Regions from separate parts of the Homo sapiens genome. Here all the other regions are reported to be linked to region 3. Evidence: microRNA targets listed by miRTarBase, many of them from high-throughput screens and not tested one by one. Region 3 holds a microRNA gene; each other region holds the end of a gene's coding sequence.

The links. The annotated mature microRNA hsa-miR-4799-3p reads ACUGGCAUGCUGCAUUUAUAUA and lies in region 3 at 2,488-2,509, opposite strand. An mRNA with a match to its seed (bases 2 to 7 or 8) in the 3' UTR can be bound and repressed. Matches are read on the target gene's strand: a 7mer-m8 pairs with bases 2 to 8, a 7mer-A1 pairs with bases 2 to 7 and ends in A, and an 8mer does both.
Region 1: miRTarBase lists ZKSCAN2 as a target of hsa-miR-4799-3p. Seed matches in the 3' UTR shown: 7mer-A1 at 1,603-1,609.
Region 2: miRTarBase lists GMDS as a target of hsa-miR-4799-3p. The part of its 3' UTR that is shown has no 7-base or 8-base seed match.
Region 4: miRTarBase lists SLC39A10 as a target of hsa-miR-4799-3p. Seed matches in the 3' UTR shown: 7mer-m8 at 1,856-1,862.
Region 5: miRTarBase lists ZBTB41 as a target of hsa-miR-4799-3p. The part of its 3' UTR that is shown has no 7-base or 8-base seed match.

What each region holds. Positions count from the first base shown.
Region 1 is chr16:25,236,487-25,240,486 of GRCh38, forward strand. ZKSCAN2 (zinc finger with KRAB and SCAN domains 2) reads right to left here. Exons shown (of 7, transcript NM_001012981.5): 7 at 1-4,000. The coding sequence ends at 3,330. Among named protein-coding and RNA genes, the nearest start is that of ZKSCAN2-DT, 19 kb to the right of the region's middle.
Region 2 is chr6:1,620,869-1,624,868 of GRCh38, reverse strand. GMDS (GDP-mannose 4,6-dehydratase) reads left to right here. Exons shown (of 11, transcript NM_001500.4): 10 at 329-397; 11 at 638-1,063. The coding sequence ends at 700. Among named protein-coding and RNA genes, the nearest start is that of FOXC1, 13 kb to the right of the region's middle. RefSeq lists an enhancer at 272-381.
Region 3 is chr4:147,780,690-147,785,147 of GRCh38, reverse strand. It overlaps MIR4799 (microRNA 4799), which reads right to left and starts at 2,553; the gene lies at 2,480-2,553. All of the region lies in intron 1 of ARHGAP10 (Rho GTPase activating protein 10), which reads right to left. RefSeq lists an enhancer at 4,200-4,249.
Region 4 is chr2:195,734,538-195,738,537 of GRCh38, forward strand. SLC39A10 (solute carrier family 39 member 10) reads left to right here. Exons shown (of 10, transcript NM_020342.3): 10 at 346-3,163. The coding sequence ends at 504. DNAH7 (dynein axonemal heavy chain 7) reads right to left here. Exons shown (of 65, transcript NM_018897.3): 65 at 3,166-3,590. The coding sequence ends at 3,384. LOC107985972 (a long non-coding RNA gene) reads left to right here and starts at 3,585. Exons shown (of 3, transcript XR_001739837.2): 1 at 3,585-4,000.
Region 5 is chr1:197,155,884-197,159,883 of GRCh38, forward strand. It overlaps ZBTB41 (zinc finger and BTB domain containing 41), which reads right to left. Exons shown (of 11, transcript NM_194314.3): 11 at 1-4,000. The coding sequence ends at 3,476. Among named protein-coding and RNA genes, the nearest start is that of ASPM, 11 kb to the left of the region's middle.

The DNA.
Region 1 (4,000 bases), not on the chromosome of region 3:
GCTCCACAGCCTCATGAAACATTAGAGCCAGAGCAACTTAGCAGTTAAGTTCAACTTCTCTTCAGATGAGGAGCCGAGGCCCAGAGAGGCTATGATGTGTCAAACAACACTCATTTAGTGACAAGATTAAAACTTGCTTCTTTCAGCTTCCAGTCTCATGCTCATTCCACCAAGGCCAGGCTGCCCTGAGCCATTTACGTGTGAGGTTTCCCTTTTTAAAAAACTGTTTCTTTCCAGATGAATGAATTAGGTTGAATGCATAATAACATCACTGGTAAGAACTGGAGGTATTTGTGGCAGTAACAAAGCAAGCCTAGGTGGGACATACGACCCCAGTTTCCAAAATGCCTTCGATAAGATGATAGTGAAAAGTTGTCAGTCTATGCTGCTTTTCAAAAACAGGATTTGACACAATTTACAAGGAAATAAGATGAAATTAAATAAATATAGGTTGGGGTAGTTGGTTGAGGTGGGCTGTAAGTTTTGTTGAACTTTCCAGCAGCCAGAACAAAGAGAGAAAAAGCAGCTTAAGTTACAAAAATCACAGTGTTTGTAATACATACATACAGATCTACACACACATGTAGACGTGTGTGTGTACACATACTGCGCTTAGGATCAGAGCTTTCCTTGGCACTGAGATCTAGATAAAAAAACCTTTTTCTATGAATCTTCATAAAGGCAATGTTATGTGATCTAAAAGACACATTGGTCAGAACATGATTATTCATTTTGACTTACATGTACCAGGTGAAAACAAATAAAATGCAGGGAGACAGGTAGTGTTGGTCTAAAATGGGGGGGAGACCTTCCATTTCTTCAGAACAAAGTTCATCAAATTAATGTAACACATGTCTAGACAGCCCATTTACAATTAGGAGTAGAGATAGGGGAACCCAAATTCCACCTCAGCTTGCTCCCAGGCATATGAGAGTTAAACAGAATCAGTTTGTCCCACTAGAGAGGGAATGGGTCTTGCTTGACCCTTTCCTGCCACTGGGGAAGGTTGAGAGATGAAGGTACAGAATATGATTCTGGGCAACTTAGCGCAACTCTTCTGCAGGGGAAGGTGATGTTCTCATGACTGAGCTCCTGGCCTTCTGTAACTGCCATGGTGTAAGTGGCCCCAACTTTTGCTGTGATGCTTCCTCTATCAAACTGTGAGTTCCTTGAGCCCAGGCACCATGCCCCTTCCTTCCTTTTTCTATCATTCACTGTGGCTAGAACATGGCCTTACATGTAACAGTGCTTCATATTTATGAATAAGTCATCTACTTTCCTGAATCATGCTTCCACATAATATCAATCCTGTGTACATATTATTAAGTGGTGATTTCTATTAATTTACATCTTCTCTAGAGCTGGAATTCCAGAACATCTACACAATATAAACACAAGCCCACTGGCACCACAAACATCTTACTGTGCTACGCACACTACCAACATGGAACTGTACTTAGCATTAGAAATCTATAACTTGGACAACACAGAAAAATCAACCTATTGAGATGTGAACAGTCATAATATTTCCAACAAATGTAAATCAGAAACATTTATCAATGTCTACCTGAGTCACCTGCCTTCCAACAGGCCACACCCTATTCTGGCACCATAAATTAGATTTCTTTCTACAGTGCCTACCCTCCTAGGTACTTTGCTGAACAAGTTTCAAAAGATTGAAACATACCAAAAGGAAAAATATCATTTCCAGATGGCTTCAAATAAGAGCATTTGACAAAGAAAGGGAGAGAGAAGAGCAAAATAATCACCCACAAACAGCCCTAACTCCGGTTCCCTTCCCATTAAACTTGTGACTTCTCCCTTGCCAAAGCAAAGCCACCCTGGGTCACCTACATACTAAGGGAATAAACGCCACTGACTCCATCCTGAAGCAACTGGCCATGGAAAATCAAATCTCTGGGTTTCATCTGTAACTTCAAAAGTCAATTAACCATCCCCCATCAGAACTTTTCCTTCAGTGTTTACTGGGTTACTGCCGGGGGTTCTCAAAGAGATTTTTCAGACAAAACAAGTAAATGAGGAAAACAAAAACGGTGTTCTGGATTTCTGGATTGAAGTTTTTATAAATGTTCCCACTTTTCACCCAGTGAGCTCTAGAGTTGTGTTAAGTTACTTGGCACACTACAGTTAGGTTTCTGATGCGGTGAACAGGGACTAGAAGCCTCAGGAAAAGAGACTGGGAGATTTAACAGCCAGACCTGAGAGCGCTGGTCTAAGCTGAGGTGGCTATCTGATCGACAGCAGGCCAAAGGAGTCCAACTGGTCTTAGAAATGCTTCAGGTGTCTATTACCTCTTCCCTATCCCCTTAAAGTTTTAGAAACACTATTATAATATTATACTGCAGTGCAGGGGTGGGAGGTACGAAATATGCCAACATGCCAGTCATGTTCTAGATAAGAGCCAGAGAAGTTAGAGGATAGAACTAGAACGCATCTGAAATCCTACTTTGCTTTAGTGAGACACACCACGAGCAGGCCTCCTATTCTATCTGAGGAGGGCATGGTAGTTCGGAAGAGGCCGGCAGGAGCACCCAGAGCAACTGAGAGGCAAGTGCAGGGCTATGAGAAACAGTAGGAGGACCTGGGATTACTTATAGGCTGGAGAAGCAGCAGCCAGGGGATTTAAGTCTTCGGGTACAGAAAAGGATGAGGGGTGATCAATTGCTTCTCACCTCCATGGAGGGCAAGGCATTAGTAACAGGATTTCAGTGACAATACAGGGATTCTGCCCTAGCTATTTGGATCAACTTCTTGACAAAAAAAAAAAAAAAGGTACACTGTAACAGACTTCTGAGGAAAGCTATAAAATCTTCACTCTTCTTTTGTGGATCTCTTCAAAACCAAGATGGATTTGATGTAGTTCCGATCAGACTCCTCAAAGTTCTATCTAAATGTGAAAATCTGTTATCAAGTTTCATCCAGGATCTCACGGAGTAGGTAATAACAACAAAAAAACTTTTGGCATTTTTTATATCCTTGAAGACAACTCTCACCCATATGGAAGATCTTGAATGTTGCCGAACTTAGCAATCCAGTTGCAGTGGCCTCAATGTACTGAAGGGTATTTCATTCTGAACTCGGACAATGTATCTTCGCCACATTCTTAAAGGAGAAGCTGAGACACACAGAAGAGGAGGAACAGACTGATGAAGTTAGAGGCAGAGGTGAGAACAGGATGAAAGTGTTTAGTTTATTTATATTCTCAAGTTTATCTTGGAAATTACACTTCATAGCTAAGAAAAGATTGCTTCCAAGAATGAGATTAGGGTAAAATGGCTAAGGGGGCATTTAGGAAGAGAAGATCATCATCAAAAAGTTTTCCTAAATTCATCAGTCTTTCCCTTATGTGGGTTCTCAGGGCAATACAGAGATGGAGGGTGTGGCAGAGGCTTTTCTCTCACATGAACTTCCCGATGTTTGGTAAGAACAGAACTCTTACTGAAACGTTTGCCACACTGGGCACATCCATAGGGCTTCTCTCCAGTGTGTATTCTCCGATGTTCTCGAAATCTCGTACAGTTATTGAAACTTTTTTCACAGTCCACACATTTGTAGGGATTCTCCCCAGTGTGAACTCTCCGGTGGGCGCTGAAATGAGAACTGTTGGTGAAACTTTTCCCACACTCTCCACACTGATAGGGCTTCTCACCGGTGTGCGTTCTCTGATGTATAATAAGACTAGAGCTCTGACTAAAGCATTTTCCACACTCTCCGCATCTGTAGGGTTTCTCTCCTGTGTGGATTCTCTGGTGGGCACCAAAATTTGAGGAGTCATTAAAGCTTTTTCCACAGTCAAGACATTTAAAAGGTTTTTCGCCTGTGTGGATTCTTTGGTGTCTGATCAGGCTCCTGCTTCTACCAAAGCACTTCCCACAGACACCACACTTGTAAGGATTCTCCTTGTGGTGGGTCATCCGGCACATCAGACGAGTGCTCCTTCCAAAGCTTTCTCCATATTTGAGAAGTCTGTAGGGTCTCT
Region 2 (4,000 bases), not on the chromosome of region 3:
CAACTTCATGTTATAAAAAAAAAAAAAAAAAAAAAAAAAAAGCATTAAGAGCCCAAGGGACGCCTTGGGGAGAAGAGGTGTGGAGGTAGCTGGGGGTGGATCGCGGTCACGGTCCTCACGGGTCCGCACAGCACATTCTTAACCGCGACCTAGTGATTTACGGCGCCGAGAGCCGCAACTGAACGCGCACAGCAGGGACCGAAAGCAGGGAAACCCGGAGCCTTGTGCGCCCAGAGGGAGCGGAACGGTGGGAGTTCCCGGGGCTCGGGACCTGCTGCCCCCACCCCCACGACCCACGCCTGCTTCGTCTCCCCCTCTTCTTCCCTAGGACTTTCTGCAGGGCGACTGCACCAAAGCGAAACAGAAGCTGAACTGGAAGCCCCGGGTCGCTTTCGATGTGAGTATCTCTTAGGGCGCACGCCGCCCGCTGCGGGGCCCCGGGCTGCAGGGCGGCAGCTCTCAGGGTCGGGCGCCTGAGGCGCCTGCGATGCCCAAAGCCCGGAAGGCGGGGTGCGGGAGAAGTGAGGGGAGCTGGAACGAGGGACGCGGAGGCCTCTCTGGGGCCGACACCCGGGGTGGGGTGTCACCAGGAGAGAGTGGCAGAAGCTCCTCCCTCACGCCCACCCCTGTGTTGCAGGAGCTGGTGAGGGAGATGGTGCACGCCGACGTGGAGCTCATGAGGACAAACCCCAATGCCTGAGCAGCGCCTCGGAGCCCGGCCCGCCCTCCGGCTACAATCCCCGCAGAGTCTCCGGTGCAGACGCGCTGCGGGGATGGGGAGCGGCGTGCCAATCTGCGGGTCCCCTGCGGCCCCTGCTGCCGCTGCGCTGTCCCGGCCGCAAGAGCGGGGCCGCCCCGCCGAGGTTTGTAGCAGCCGGGATGTGACCCTCCAGGGTTTGGGTCGCTTTGCGTTTGTCGAAGCCTCCTCTGAATGGCTTTGTGAAATCAAGATGTTTTAATCACATTCACTTTACTTGAAATTATGTTGTTACACAACAAATTGTGGGGCCTTCAAATTGTTTTTCTCTTTTCATATTAAAAATGGTCTTTCTGTGAACTAGCATTCACAGGGTCAGTGTGGATGTTTTCTCCCAAGTTATGAACACGGCTATAGGGGTCCCCAAACAACCCCACAATCCAGGCCTTGGAATGAGATCGCTGTGGTCAGGCCTTGCCCTGTTTTGAGAAAGCCCTTGGTGGGAGGACTCCTGCAAGGCTAAGGGGGGCGGGGGTGCTCCGGCGAGCCTCCTCCTTAGTCTTTGCCTGGGACATTTCTTTCCCCCTCCTGGTGACAAGTCACTCTGGAAACCTAGTTCCTGCAGAAGGGAGGAATTCACACCCTGGCTGGTCTCTGCTGACTATAATTAGAACCCAAGGGCTCTCACCCATCTGAAAAAGAAGTCTTGAGAAATAGAGGGGGGTCAGAAGAAGAAACTTGAAGGTAAGCAAATACTGTTGGAACATTCCATGGCAAAGCCACCAAGTTACCTAGAGGTCTCTGAGCCTGTGCCTTTCCTTGTGGTCTAGAATCTTTTACACAGTGCTTATTTGCAGCCTCTTCTTATGACTACTAGGTCACTTTTTAAATCTCAGTTTAATGTATTCATTCAGCCATTTATGTTAAGTGCCTAATACATGCCAGACATTGTGCTATGCACTTGAACGACATCAGCGTTAATTTGAAGCTATAATAAAAAGGTTTAAGGCTCAGCCTCAGATCTCTGGATCTGGTTTGTTTGCATGCATCATTTAGGTGGCCTGGGTAAGACCACAGGTGTGTGCTCCTGAGCTGTGTATGGTGTACAGCTACAGGTAGGCTGACGCACACATGTGCAGGACACCCACAGGCAGCAAGCAAGGATTCATGTACAGGTGTATACCTCCACATGAAATACAGTATTTTGCCCTAGAACAAATTAGGTCAGGACACTTCTCCCCCTCACTCCCCTTCCAAGCAAAATAAAATAAAACTTTATAGCAAATGGAATTCCAGCCTTTGCACATGTGTGTGTGAGTGCGGGTAAACTATTTCTGAACGTCTTCACAGGCAGGTTTATGATCTGGGGGAGGACCGAGTCTCCAACGACTGGCGCAGGAGAGAGGGCTCTTTGTGTGGCTGCCCAGTTGCTGTGAAAGCTTGCTGGCCGGGCGGCCTCGCCCTCGATGGAGCAGAACTGGGGGGCCTGAGCTAGCCCACCCGCTCCTCAGAAGCTGTCCCAGGACTCGCCTTCTCTGCACTCCCAGGCGGGATGCTGCTAATTGGAAACACATGGTTGCTGGGAGGCCGGGCCTCAGCCTGGGCGGGATAGTGGGCACACACACAGATACATACTCACACATTGGCTCGAACACAAACATCCATGCACATCCATTCACAAGTGCACATACACTCCACAAACATGCCATCTCACAGTCACACATTCTCACAAACACTTGCAAACCCAACTCCCAAACCCACTGTCACACACATCCTCCAACAAATCTCACAAAGAGTCACATTCCTCTTAGCCTTGACCCTGATGGGCAGGCACCCCCTCTCCTCTGACCACCGGAACCTCCCTTCCCACACCCAGGAGAGACTATTCCAGGGGCCCTCAGGCTTGCCATGGCCCTGTTTAATTCAGTGTTGCTTGTTTGGACACCTAGAATCAGGAGAGATTCTAGGCAGGGGTTTATGCAGCTCCAGTTGAGCCATGATGTTGAATTCTACTTCTCCAAACGGATGGCAGCATCCATGTTTGAAGGAAACTAAAAAGTATTTTTGGTTGCAACCTTCTCACTGCTCCTGCACCCTGAGTAATGGAAGGAGCGGGAGTTCATTTGGCTTCCTGGTGTATGTGGTTTAAAAGGAGAAAAGGAGAATCGATTTACTTCGGCATTTTTTATCTATTTCTGTGCTATGAGAGAAATTCATTTGGACATCCTTCAAGACAATTCTTATTACAGGGTTTCTTCTATCTTAAATCTCAATTAAATTTCAGTAAACTTATTTTTTCCTGCTCTGCCAGACTTTGGCTGTTGGTTTCAAATGTTACAAAACATCTTCCACCTTGATATTTTTAAGGAAAAACTGAGAAAGTTAAACCTTCAGTTAAACTCACATACCATGGCAAAGCAATCTTGCCCGAGTTTGTGCAGGAGGTGCGTGGAACCCGGGTAGGCCAGGCCCCGTCGCGGGCTCTCTCTGCTGCCCTTTGTCTTTAAGGAATTGCGAGCGAGCTAGGCCCAGCATAATAAACCTGTCACACCTCTGCAGCTGTTTAGGGGCTCAGGCTCAGCCGCTGCTGCTGCTGCGCGCAAGATGGCTCCTTCGGAAGGCCGGGTCCGCTTGGCCGCGGGCGCTGGCGAGGAGCGGGTCGGCGCTGGCAAACCCCACAGGCATGGCTTTGGGTTCTTTTTCGCCCCTTTTAGTAGCCTTCGCCTACACCAACCACCGCGAACCTCGTGGAACCTCTGGCAGCCAGTTGGAGGGCTCCTGGCAGATGCAAGGAGTGTTATTATCGCACTAATGTGTTATTAGAGCTTGGAGCAGGCAGCACTTTAAACATTCACTTGAAAATAACCTTAAATGTATTGTTTACAAGTAACTTTTTAACACCCCTCCCCCCAAGTCTCAAAGCACCCTACGCACTTTATTTGGATTTGGGAGTGCCTACTGGGTGAATTCTGTTTTAAGGTGCAGCCCACACACGTCCAGGTGTTTTCTACAACCTGCATCCTTGATTGGTACGCGGGTGGCATGGAGGGGTGGTGGCAGCGCCCATCTAGGTTTTACAAAATGAGTGTCCCTGTGTGTGCGTGGACGTGCCTCACAAAGAGACCTTCACGTCCGTACATGCCACCCGCACCCTCCAAAAATTGTGGATTGCCATCACGGGGGTCGCTAATACTTTTAACAAGCAGCAGGGGCAATGGGGGACAAAACGGCGCTAGGAACTGGTCCACCGTCCACAGTGTGTCCCCTGAGAACACCCGGGGTCTGGGCCTGATCTCCAGGAGT
Region 3 (4,458 bases):
AAGTCAATATTCAGAGCTGTTCTTTCCCTTTAGCTTAGATGTTATTCTTTTTTTTTTTTTTTTTAGAAAATAGTCGTCCATACATTTCATCATCTTGGAATCAACTGCATATATATATTACATATATTTTATAATATATAACATATATTTCATAATATATATTTTAAAATATAACATATTTCATAATATATTTTATAACATGTTTTATATTTTATAACATATATTTTATAATATATTATATTTATAATATATATTTTATAATATATTTATAATATATATTTTATAATATATTTATAATATATATTTTATAATATATTTATAATATATATTTTATAATATATTATATTTATAATATATATTTTATAATATATTATATTTATAATATACATTTTATAATATATATTTATAATATATATTTTATAATATATTATATTTATAATATATATTTTATAATATATATTTTATATTTATAATATATAATATATATTTTATAATATATATTTTATATTTATAATATATAATATATATTTATTCTATTTTAAATATATAATATATATTTATAATATATATTTTATAAATTGCATAATATATATAATATATACTATAAAATATATGTTTTATATTATATATATTTTGCAGTATATATTATATATAAATTAAATATATATATAAATATAAATTATATAATATATATCATATATAACTTATATATTATGTAATTTAAAAATTATATATAACTTTATATTATATAATTTATAAATTATATATAATTTAATATGTATTATATAATTTATAAATTATATATAATTTAATGTTATGTAAATTATGTAATATAAAATTTAATGTTATGTAAATTATATAATTTAATGTTATGTAAATTATATAATACACAATTTAATGTTATGTAAATTATATAATACACAATTTAATGTTATGTAAAATATATAATACACAATTTAATGTTATGTAAAATATATAATACACAATTTAATGTTATGTAAAATATATAATACACAATTTAATGTTATGTAAATTATATAATACACAATTTAATGTTATGTAAATTATATAATACACAATTTAATGTTATGTAAAATATATAATATATAATTTAATGTGTGTTATATAATTATATAATAATTTAATGTGTTATATAAATTATATAATAATGTGTGTTATATAAATATAATACACAATTTAATGTGTGTTATATAAATATAATACACAATTTAATGTGTGTTATATAAATATAATACACAATTTAATGTGTGTTATATAAATATAATACACAATTTAATGTGTGTTATATAAATATAATACACAATTTAATGTGTGTTATATAAATATAATACATAATTTAATGTGTGTTATATAAATATAATAATTTAATGTGTTCTATAAATTATACAATACATAATTTAATGTGTTCTATAAATTATACAATACATAATTTAATGTGTTCTATAAATTATACAATACACAATTTAATGTGTTCTATAAATTATACAATACACAATTTAATGTGTTCTATAAATTATACAATACACAATTTAATGTGTTCTATAAATTATACAATACACAATTTAATGTGTGTTCTATAAATTATACAATACATAATTTAATGTGTGTTCTATAAATTATACAATACATAATTTAATGTGTGCTATATAAATTATACAATACATAATTTAATGTGTGCTATATAAATTATACAATACATAATTTAATGTGTGCTATATAAATTATACAATACATAATTTAATGTGTGCTATATAAATTATACAATACATAATTTAATGTGTGCTATATAAATTATACAATACATAATTTAATGTGTGTTATATAAATTATACAATACATAATTTAATGTGTGTTATATAAATTATACAATACATAATTTAATGTGTGTTATATAAATTATACAATACATAATTTAATGTGTTATATAAATTATACAATATATAATTTAATGTGTTATATAAATTATACAATATATAATTTAATGTGTGTTATATAAATTATATAATATATAATTTAACATATAATTTACATAATATATAATTTAACACATAATTTATATAATATATATAATTTAACATATAGTATATAATTTATATATATAATTTAACATATAGTATATAATTTATATAATATATATAATTTATATAATATATAATTTAATATATTATATATAATTTATATAATATATAATTTTATATATTATATAATTTATATATTATATATAATACGTAATATATGTTATATATATTTTATGTTGTTTTTATATATATATGAAAATTTTTCCTGGGTCTTTGGAGTCTTTAGAGACTAGCTGAGCTGTGAATAACTCAGGAATGCTGTCAAACTAACCAGGAAGTCTTTACACACATAAATTTTCCAGAAGTCTCTTCTTTCCTGTTTGCAAACTGGTCTGACCCCTCAGAACAAGTTGTACCACAGTCAGTACTGGGCATCTCAGACTGCTAATATATAAATGCAGCATGCCAGTCCCTGCATCTCAGGACTGGCATGCTGCATTTAGATATTAGCAGTGACTGAACCGATTACCACACAGGGCTTTACAAAACACCTTCAGGTCATTTGACCCAGCGATGTACACAGTTCTCACAAAGCAGATTTCTCAGCTTTAGTTCTTGCTGATGTTAAGACGACTCTTTCTGCTGACAACTGTTTCCACAAAGTATTCTCTAACTAGTAAATGACTCATACCGGAAGAACCCACTCCTGAAAATGTATTAATTTCATGCTGATAATAAAACGCATATGCCATGTGGAAAATGCCACCAGCACTCCATGACACTACACAACTTCAAAGACATAGAGTCTTGCTCCTCATGAAAACTCAACGTAGTTCAACACGCCCAATACATGATCTTTCAACCATACTGTGCCAAACTGTCAATTTTCAGAGTCAAGTATTTGTATGCCTAAACCCCACACACCCACCACAATTAAATTCAGTATGATTCAGTCTCTCTGCAGGACATTCACCTTATGGCAATGTGGCAAATGCTGCACTAGCAATAAAACTGTTCTCTTCATTCAAGTTGTTACTTTGCTATATTACCCCTTTGCAAGGCAAGGTCACAAGAGACATACTAAGCGGTAAAACTATTCAGCGACTTTTTAAAAGCCACTTATTTTACCGTATTTCAGAAATCAATGAAACTCAACTGTCAGTTTTCCAATGTGGAAACTCAGATTTAAAATAGATACCTAGAGTTTAGCAATATGTATCAAGAATTATACAAATCTGACTAAGAATTTAACTATGGAAATACTGACGCGTAAAGATGTACTTTGCTATCACTTATAATAACAAATAGCTGGAAAGAAATCTAGATTAGTAATTGTATGCAATTAATAAAGAAAACTAAGCCGAGATTGCGCCACTGCACTCCAGCCTGGGCGACAGAGCAAGACTGTCTCAAAAAAAAAAAAAAAAGAAAAGAAAAGAAAAAAATGAAAGAAAACTGGTACATTTAGAAGGTGAAACACTTAGCCATTAACGATATTCTTAGTAAAACATTTAGTATGGCAACATAGTCATAATAAGGACTACTATACCCTTTTTTAAAAATGGAGAACAAAACAAAAATGTCATAGTATGAACATAGTTGAGGGTCTTGACAAGGCGGTATTTAAGATGTAAAAGTAGCTCCCCGTATTTTTAAATGTGTATATATGACTTGCATATTCCCCATATGTAGGGTGAGCCTACATCCTGGCTTGCCAGGTCCAGCCCAATGTAAATATGAAATCATGTCCCAGTTTGGTCAAAAATTAAACGGTTGCCACACCTACCTATCCCCCAATAGTTTCTGGCACAATCTTAGCTCACTGCAACCCCCACCTCCCGGGTTCAAGTGATTCTCCTGCCTCAGCCTCTTGAGTAGCTGGGACTACAGGCACAGCTAAATTTTGTATTTTTTAGTAGAGACGGGGTTTCACCATGTTAGCCAGAATGGTCTCGATCTCTTGACCTCGTGATCCGCCCGCCTCAGCCTCCCGAAATGCTGGTATTACAGGCGTGAATCACCTTGCCCGGCCCCGCCAGTAGTCCTAGGTTAGGTCACTAACAGTTACTCCCTAAATCTATAGGGTTAAGTTTCCCACCATCAAATGCAAATCTGAGCCCTTGCGTCTTCTCTCATTCTCTGGAGCGTCTTCTCTCATTCTCCCAAAAGTGGGAGGTGGAGGACAAATGGCTTAACCCACACAAAATTGATGATACCAGCCTAGTGAGGCATCTTCCCTTGGCCCAGTCCACCCTAGGTGGACTTGCTCTCAGAGGATGCCATGCCGGCAGCACTCCTTTAGGTACCTGCTCACCCTGCTGTGTCTCAAGTTCTGTTACTACTTGCCTTTTCTGTCACCCCATGGCTGCTGCCCTGCTTATACCACCCACAAGATGAGGCAGGCTTGTTATGACCTGGG
Region 4 (4,000 bases), not on the chromosome of region 3:
CTTATTGGTAATAAGTTGCTTTATGCTTTAGCATAAAGTAAAATGTCAGAATTTATAAGGTCAGTGGATAGTAACTGTTTGAAAAATGACTAATGTGCATATTTTAAGTGTTTGTTGTGGGGGATGAGGAGGAGGGAACAGAGTTAGTATTTCCTAGCAAAAGCATAAAATTTCTTCAGTATTTGACTAAAATACATCTGGTGGGTAGCATTGTGTTCAATAAAATAATTATTTTGTCTGTAGTTACACTTCAGTCACTAATTTTCTTAAGTAGGAAAATGTTTTTAAAAACTGTTTTGAGCAGAAGTATTATACAAAGTTTAATGTGAAGATTTATTTTTCTAGCTTCCAGAAATGTTGCATGGTGATGGTGACAATGAAGAACATGGCTTTTGTCCTGTGGGGCAATTCATCCTTCAGAATTTAGGATTGCTCTTTGGATTTGCCATTATGCTGGTGATTGCCCTCTATGAAGATAAAATTGTGTTTGACATCCAGTTTTGACCTTTCCCAGTAATCACTGTTGATTACGAGAATGTTACCATGCAGCTTTGCATCTGTTCCTTGTACTGTATGCACATTGCTCAAAGGAAAGTCAGTGGCTTGCACTACTTACAAGTTTCATAGATTTGAGCCTAACCACAAGAGGCTGGTGCTTAGTACTGTTTTCCCTGCACGTAGGGGTCTTTTAAAAATATAAAGCTTGTGATAAAGAGAGGAGAATATGGGACTCCATGAACCAGTGTTGATATGTTTGATTAAGACTTTTCACAAAATAATCATATAAAACACTAGTCTCTTTATTAGTAGAAACTTCTGTGGCTATGCAGAAATAGAGATCGAACCAAAAAAAATCATTTAAACTTTAAAAATATTTTAAATGGACTTTGGGGAGACATTTTTTGTGTGTTTTAAGAATGAATTGTAGTGCTCTTTAATTCAGCTACATATATTCATGTGGTGATAGGGATCAACTTGACACAACTTTGAAACTGCATAAAGTAGACATAGGAACTAGAGGAAAGCTCAGGCTGCATTAGAGTATGAATTTAGCATTGGGAAAAGCCCTTATTCTTGAATCTAGAGTTACTATTTTTGTATATATTTGCATAGTGTTTAAACCTGCAGCCTAAACTACTGAAATTTGTGATTGTATGTTTGTGTGAGCTTCAGTTTAATGAAAGATTCATAATGGTTCTTTGTATTATTATAATACTTGGTGTTGGGGTGTTCTTTCTGTTTTGTTTTTTACTTTAATTTTGTTTTGATTTTTTTTTTTTTTTTTTGGCGGGGGTAGGTGAGGGTTTGGAGCATGTGGTCTTTTTAAAAAATTGTAACCCTCTAGAAAATATCAAAGAAATGAACCAGACGTGGTTTAAATAGTTGATTTTCCTATTTTAACAGTACCAACTAGTTAATTGGGAAATGTAAGTTCTGAATGTTCACATTGCTTTACCAGTTTGGCACTGGAACCAAGAGCACATGTCGTGGCTGGCTACAAGGTTGTAAAGCAGAAAATCGAAGTTTACCATGTCTGTAATGTGTACATGAAGTGTCAATTTAGAACAGTTACTAGGATAAACTCCATTATTGCCATGGCTGTCATGGTACCCAAGTGACTTGGAAGATGCATTTAAATTACTCAGCTGAAATCACTTGATCATCTTGTGCCAAGATATGCTGTTGGTGCCTGATAGGGATTAGTCTTTTAGGTGCCCTGTTCTCCTACCATAATTGTGAATGATTTGTGAGAAGTGCAAGCCATGTTTATCCTGAATTTTTACTTAATAATTTGTATTACTAGTCATATGCATGTAGCTTTCTGTTTACATCCTATGCCACATGGTCTTCATTTATGCCAGGTAAACTGTATTTGAACTATGTGCAGCTAGCTTTGTTTTAATCTGCTTGGCAACCAGTGTAGCTGCTGTAACAATCTATCTTATTGTTCAAATATATAAGAGCCAAACTCTTTTCCATTCCATCTAAAATGTTTTCATTTAGTACTCTTCTTTCCTCCTACTCTATGAACTTCAAAACAAAAACAAAACTTTGAGAGCAGCACATGCATCCAGGTATTTATAGATTATTGCCAGTGTCTTTTCTGTATGCTATAAGCAAGGGAGCTTAGGTGTTATTTCTTTAATTTATGCTTGAATCTGAAAAATTATTTCTGACTTACTCCATGGCCTCCTTATAATAAGTAGAAGTTTTATATATAATTAATTTTCAGCATTGGGCACTGAATTAGGACAGTCCTCATCTCATTGCTTGGCCCTTCAAGCAACCTAGCTAAAAGGTGCTGATATTTTATTTAGTACTGCCAACTTCAAGTGATTTAGATATCTATCTATCTAGATTTCTGAACCAAGATATATTTATAGTTCACTTTTGGGTTTTTATACCCACGGTAGGATTCTGCATTCCAGCATTAAATCTGCTTCATTTTAGAACCTTTATAAAAGCAATAGCTGGAATATACTCCCAGTTTTAAAATAAATGCCTGATTGATTTAAAGCAAGTAGGTTATGCTGAAGTATATAAAGAAGTTTTATATTCTCTCAAAAATGGTATTATCTTTCTTTATTTGCTAGATTCTTACAAATCTTTTAAGAGGGCTGTAACAGTTGCTGCTAGTATTAGGGTTCCACATCATTCTAATGTATAGTTTCAAGTCTTAATAGACAATCTGAATTCCACTACATTTCTTTTGGCTCCAACATTCCTTTTAGCTTGACCAGTCTAATTTAAAATGTGTTTGTTGGAGGTCATTAACGTTACTTGTACAATGCTGTCACTGTGTGACATCCATATGAATTTTGGTATATATCAATCAATCAATCAATCACATTGCATTCAATCAATCAGCTGTGATTGATTGATTATGCTTAGAAATACTATAGTAACTAGATGCAGTGTGAATTTTTTCCATTAACAAACAAACAAGTCAGTGGCTTAAATGTGATTATGGTCCTGCAAGGTGATTCTTGCTAAAATATCTAAACTTTTGTTTTGTTTTAACTGAATCATTTTTTAACTTAAAAAGCTGGAAAATATCAAATGCTGTTTTTTTTTTTTCATTGTCAACAGTGGTGTGTCATTTTATGTATGTTCCTAATGCTTATGGAACTCCTCCAAAATAAAGTTACTCAAAGAGAGCAAATATGCCAGTGTGTTTTCTTTAGTCTTTATTTCAGAACATTTCCTTACATTTAAGTATGAGTCATATTAAGTTTAGCTGCATTTGCTCATAAGTAAATTCATAATTATAACTTTAGTCAAATGTATTTAAACAAACAAAAAAAAAGGTTTAAGTAGTAAAATATGCTTTCTCTACTCAGCCAGCCAACAAGAAATAGGAACAAGGAAATGATGTCTTCTGGTTATGAATTAAGTTGACATAACAGTGCTACACCTCGTCCAATCCAGTGTTCCTTGGGTTGGTCAGAGGGAAGAGTCATGGCAATCACAAAATTCGTGGAATGGCCAGTGGTGGATAATACTCCTCTCCGCTCACTTGTCTTATACAATGGAGCAACATAACTTGGCCGTTTTGGTATATCTGCCCTCTTACAGGGCTTTAGCCACATCTGGAAGAAAGTACATAACACCTCTTTAAGTCAAGGCTGTTTGTTAAATGTACATGTGTTTGAGCCTACTATAGTATTCTCAGAGTAAGGTTATGCATGCAGATTTCTGTGGCCCAAATTTATTTTCACCAGCAGTGTTGTTGTGATTGCTCAAAACATTTTATAGAACTCTCATAACTGAAAAAAATAGTTTTCGCCTTCTCTTTCTAAAAGCATATTTTCTACCTATTTATCTCTCACTCAGCCACAATTACCTGGGAAATGACTTTTAGTGCTTACAATGATAAAAAAAAAATCAGATACACTTTCAAAGGAGAGAATTGCCACACTGATACTGAGAATCATGTGCCTTTATATTAATTGAAAGCCAGTCCCAAAAAATTCTGAAGGGATTTTTATCAACAGCTGTA
Region 5 (4,000 bases), not on the chromosome of region 3:
GGCATAAGGACCAACCCCTAACCTTAAATGGGATTTTAGGCTGCAAAAAAAATAGGTTGGGTTTCTTACAAAAATAACCTCAACTTGACTTAAAAAAATTCGAAGGCAAAAATTATTTTGATAGTGTAGTGTAAAAAATAGGCTTATTTAGCATTTAGTAGTGTTCTCTAAAAAACATAACATTGTATTAATTAAACTAAGGAAAACAGTATTCTCACTTATAATTGGTTTGTCAGTATGACTATTCCCAGAGTATTTTCTTTTGCTCCTATTTTTATACATATAAACACAATAATCAATCTCAGTATTCAAACTAACAACTTTTTTTTTTTAAAAAAATCCATTATTCTAGGACTTCAACTGTGCTTCTTTGGACAAATAGTTATTCAAGCAAGAAAGAATTTAAAGTCTTTTAAACTATTTAATACCTACTAAAAATCTTTGGTGCATTTAAGTCAAAACCCATTAGATTAACACATTCCTGCACTTGATAAATTATTCAATTTACAGATTAAGTGCTAACTGCTATCTGCTAAAAAATTAATTTAAAACAATAAATTATGCTCACAAAATAAAAAAATTCTGAATGAGGCTAAACTTAGTTGCAAGATTCAAAATTTTAAGTACAGTTACAAAATAAATGGATTAGAGTTATAGAGCATTTGTCCAAAATACTCTAAATCAAATATTACAAAAGGTCAACTGAAAAGAATAGGCCTCCTTTTATACTTTTTGTGCCAACTTTTGTCAAAAGCCTATATACATTCAGTTTGCCCAAATCCATGAGGTTTTCACAATTGTAAAATTTCTTACATTTTTGGAAATTAGAGGCAGCAGATTAGTTTCATTTTGTTTTTGTTGTTGTTGTTTTCAATCATCCACTGAAACTATTACTTCACCAGAATTATATTACGCATCTCCCAGACTAGGTTAAGATTAAATGACAGGATGTAGTACCTGGCACATAGTAAGCATTCATTAATGCTAGCTTTCTTCTTTCCCTACTAGTAGCTCTGCCACCTACTGACCATGTGAGCTTAAATGAGTCCTTTTATCTTAACCTCAAATTCTTTATAAAGTGGGAATATAGCTTGTTTTTACTATTTCAGGGCTGGTTATGAGGTTCAAATGAGATAACATATATGAAAGCATTTTATAAAACAGTAAATCACTACTCAAGTTTAAGTTATCTACAATAGTAACTAAATACAATTATATTATTATATTTCACTTTACTAAGAGATGTATTCCAAAAAAGTTCTGTGTAAACCAATTCCTACAATTAAATCATATATTTAAAGCATTAGGACGGACATTATTATTAAAAGAACCCTAAAGTAAATACCTTCAAAAATCAAAGTATTCTTTTCAATGTGAAAATGCAGTATCTTCTTTTTCTGCCACCAAATGTATAATATACCATATACATACATGTATATAAATATATATATACTATCTGCCTTTTTATAAGTCTAAACTTTTCTACATTAGCTTATATGTAAGGCAGGCTACATTTTTATGTATGATTTCTTTCATTATAGTAAGATTTTTAGTTATAATATTGCCAGTCTTTATGATGAAAATCATAAAGATATGTATTTTTAAAAGTCAATTTGAAAGACTAACAGACTAACAGTACCTCATATAGTCAACCTCAATCATGTAAGTACCCCAGATATAACATTTCCACACAAAGAAATAAGAATACTTTAAAAAGGAGAACATAGTAAGTATGTCCACTAGTCTTAAGACAATTACAACCAAACCTTGACAAATGAGGCTAAACTCAGATTGGTTTTATTATTTATATGAGCTACTTTGGTTAACTGCCTCAGTTTTCAATATTTCTTTTGTTTTACCTCCGCTAGTATGGCGAATGTTGCTGTAAAGTACCTTTATTTCTTAAGTGCTTCAGCGACAGTTTCCGCCATTACTAATTGATTAAACTTTATTCATTAAAACTTCACTGTTTTATTTGTGATTTTTTTTTTCACAAGGGCTGGGCTAGACTTTACAGTTTACACACACAAAAAAAGTGCTTAAAGCAATTAGGAGTGTAAACAAAACTGAAATAGAAAACTTTTAAAACTGCTATTTTCTACTAGTTTATGTACAAATGACATGCTAATAATAAATCAACCCTGTCTAGTCTAATCTTCAAGCAACTCTACTAGGAAACATTATCTTAGTTTTTAGTTAAAATTGACTTGAAAATATGGAAAGTGCATGTCTTTAAAGGTATTTTATAATTTTGACTTTTTCCTCAATTGTAATCACTGAGGTTTTGCTGTAACTGCTATTTCCTTTCACCAAGTCCTCAACTTTTGTCTCATACAGAAATAAAAATTAAAGGTTAATTACAGACATTAGGCTTTTGTGAAGGCAAAATTAAAGATCTGGATTGCATGTAAATCTGTATATAAGTAGTGGTTCCATTTAATTAAACAATGTTAAGTTAAATTAGGCACAAATTTCATAATCTGTTTGGCACCTTTTCTAACAATTGAACACAAAATATCTAGGTTCTGTTTCCCAGAGTTTCTATCAGCCAAGTAAATGAAATCAAAAGTAGCATGTTTAATTAAATTTCATTGAGTTACAACTGCTCTTTTCTTAGTGAGATGAAGACATATGCTATGTTGTATTGTCAACATTTCTGAAATAAATAGTAAAGTACAAAAGGTGAACTTACCTTGAAAAACATCTAGTTAAAACTCTCATATTTTTCTTGTAACACATTTTCAGTTTGTATAATTTAATGCCCAGACCTATGTTTGCCTTTCTTATTCATAACAATTGAAGTATAGGCAAAAACCAATTATCTGGATTATTATTTCAGTCCTACAAATAATAGCTAATCTTACATTAGTTAAGCTTTCTGGCTTTGAGTATATCAAAAGTCCAAAGGATAATGATAACCTAAAATTATGTATGAATGGAAAGACAACACAGAAATATCCAAGGCATTCTTGTAAATTCAAATTCCTAATTTCAATTTTAAAAATTTGTATAACGTAATATTGAATCTTAGGATAAGAAACAGTTGCAATTATCAGTGTACTCTTAATTCCTTCTTAAAGGCTACATGGTCCTCAAACTTGTTTGTAAGAAGGGCTAGGAAGAAGAAGGAGAGGAATGAGACTAAAGAAGAATAAAAATTTCCACTGATGATTAAAAAAAATACTTCCATAATATCAGCAGCTAATAATTGCAAAAAATTTAAGAAACCATTAAAAGTTAGCACTAAATAATCTTTAAAAATCACAAAAATGTGCACTTCAAATATTATGCCAGAAATTTTGTCCAAATATTCATGTTCAGTAAACAGAGACACATAGTTTTCTTGATTTGAAACTGTTCTGAGGACTTGAGAAACTAGAGAAAACAAGAAAATAGCAGCCCCACAAATTTAAAAGCTATCATCTCTACCATTAGCATATAACCATCCAAAAATCTGTGGAATGTTTAGATTTACTCATGAATGATGCTCATTCGTAGAAATATTTTGAACACCAGTAGTGCTATCAAGGCCCAGTAATGTTCCAAGATAAGATTGTTCTCTAGGATCTAGCATTTGTTCAGGTCGAACTGGGTGAACTATATTTGCAGGTTGAGGAGTAAGAGTATATTTTTCCAGAAAAGCTAAATCCGCTGCTCGTGGATAATCAGTTGACTGTGGCTGTGGTGACAGAATCTCATGAGAAGATGGTGGGAGTGTGGTAGTATGACGCACTAGGTCACTCGGAGTGTCAGGCATCTGAACTGGAACCAGAGTTACTGGAACACATACTTCAGCAGATACATTCTGTAACATCGTCTTGGCTTCCGACTGATAAACTTTGGGCTGGTCCATATATTGTTTTGTTTCTGTTTGAAAGATTTTGTCATCAGATGAGTACTCAACTGGCAAGGATACAAGTTTTTCCTCAGAAGTACTGAGAGGATCATCAGGAGATTTTATTTCATGAACATGGTCAATGTGGTATTTCAGCTTGTCTTT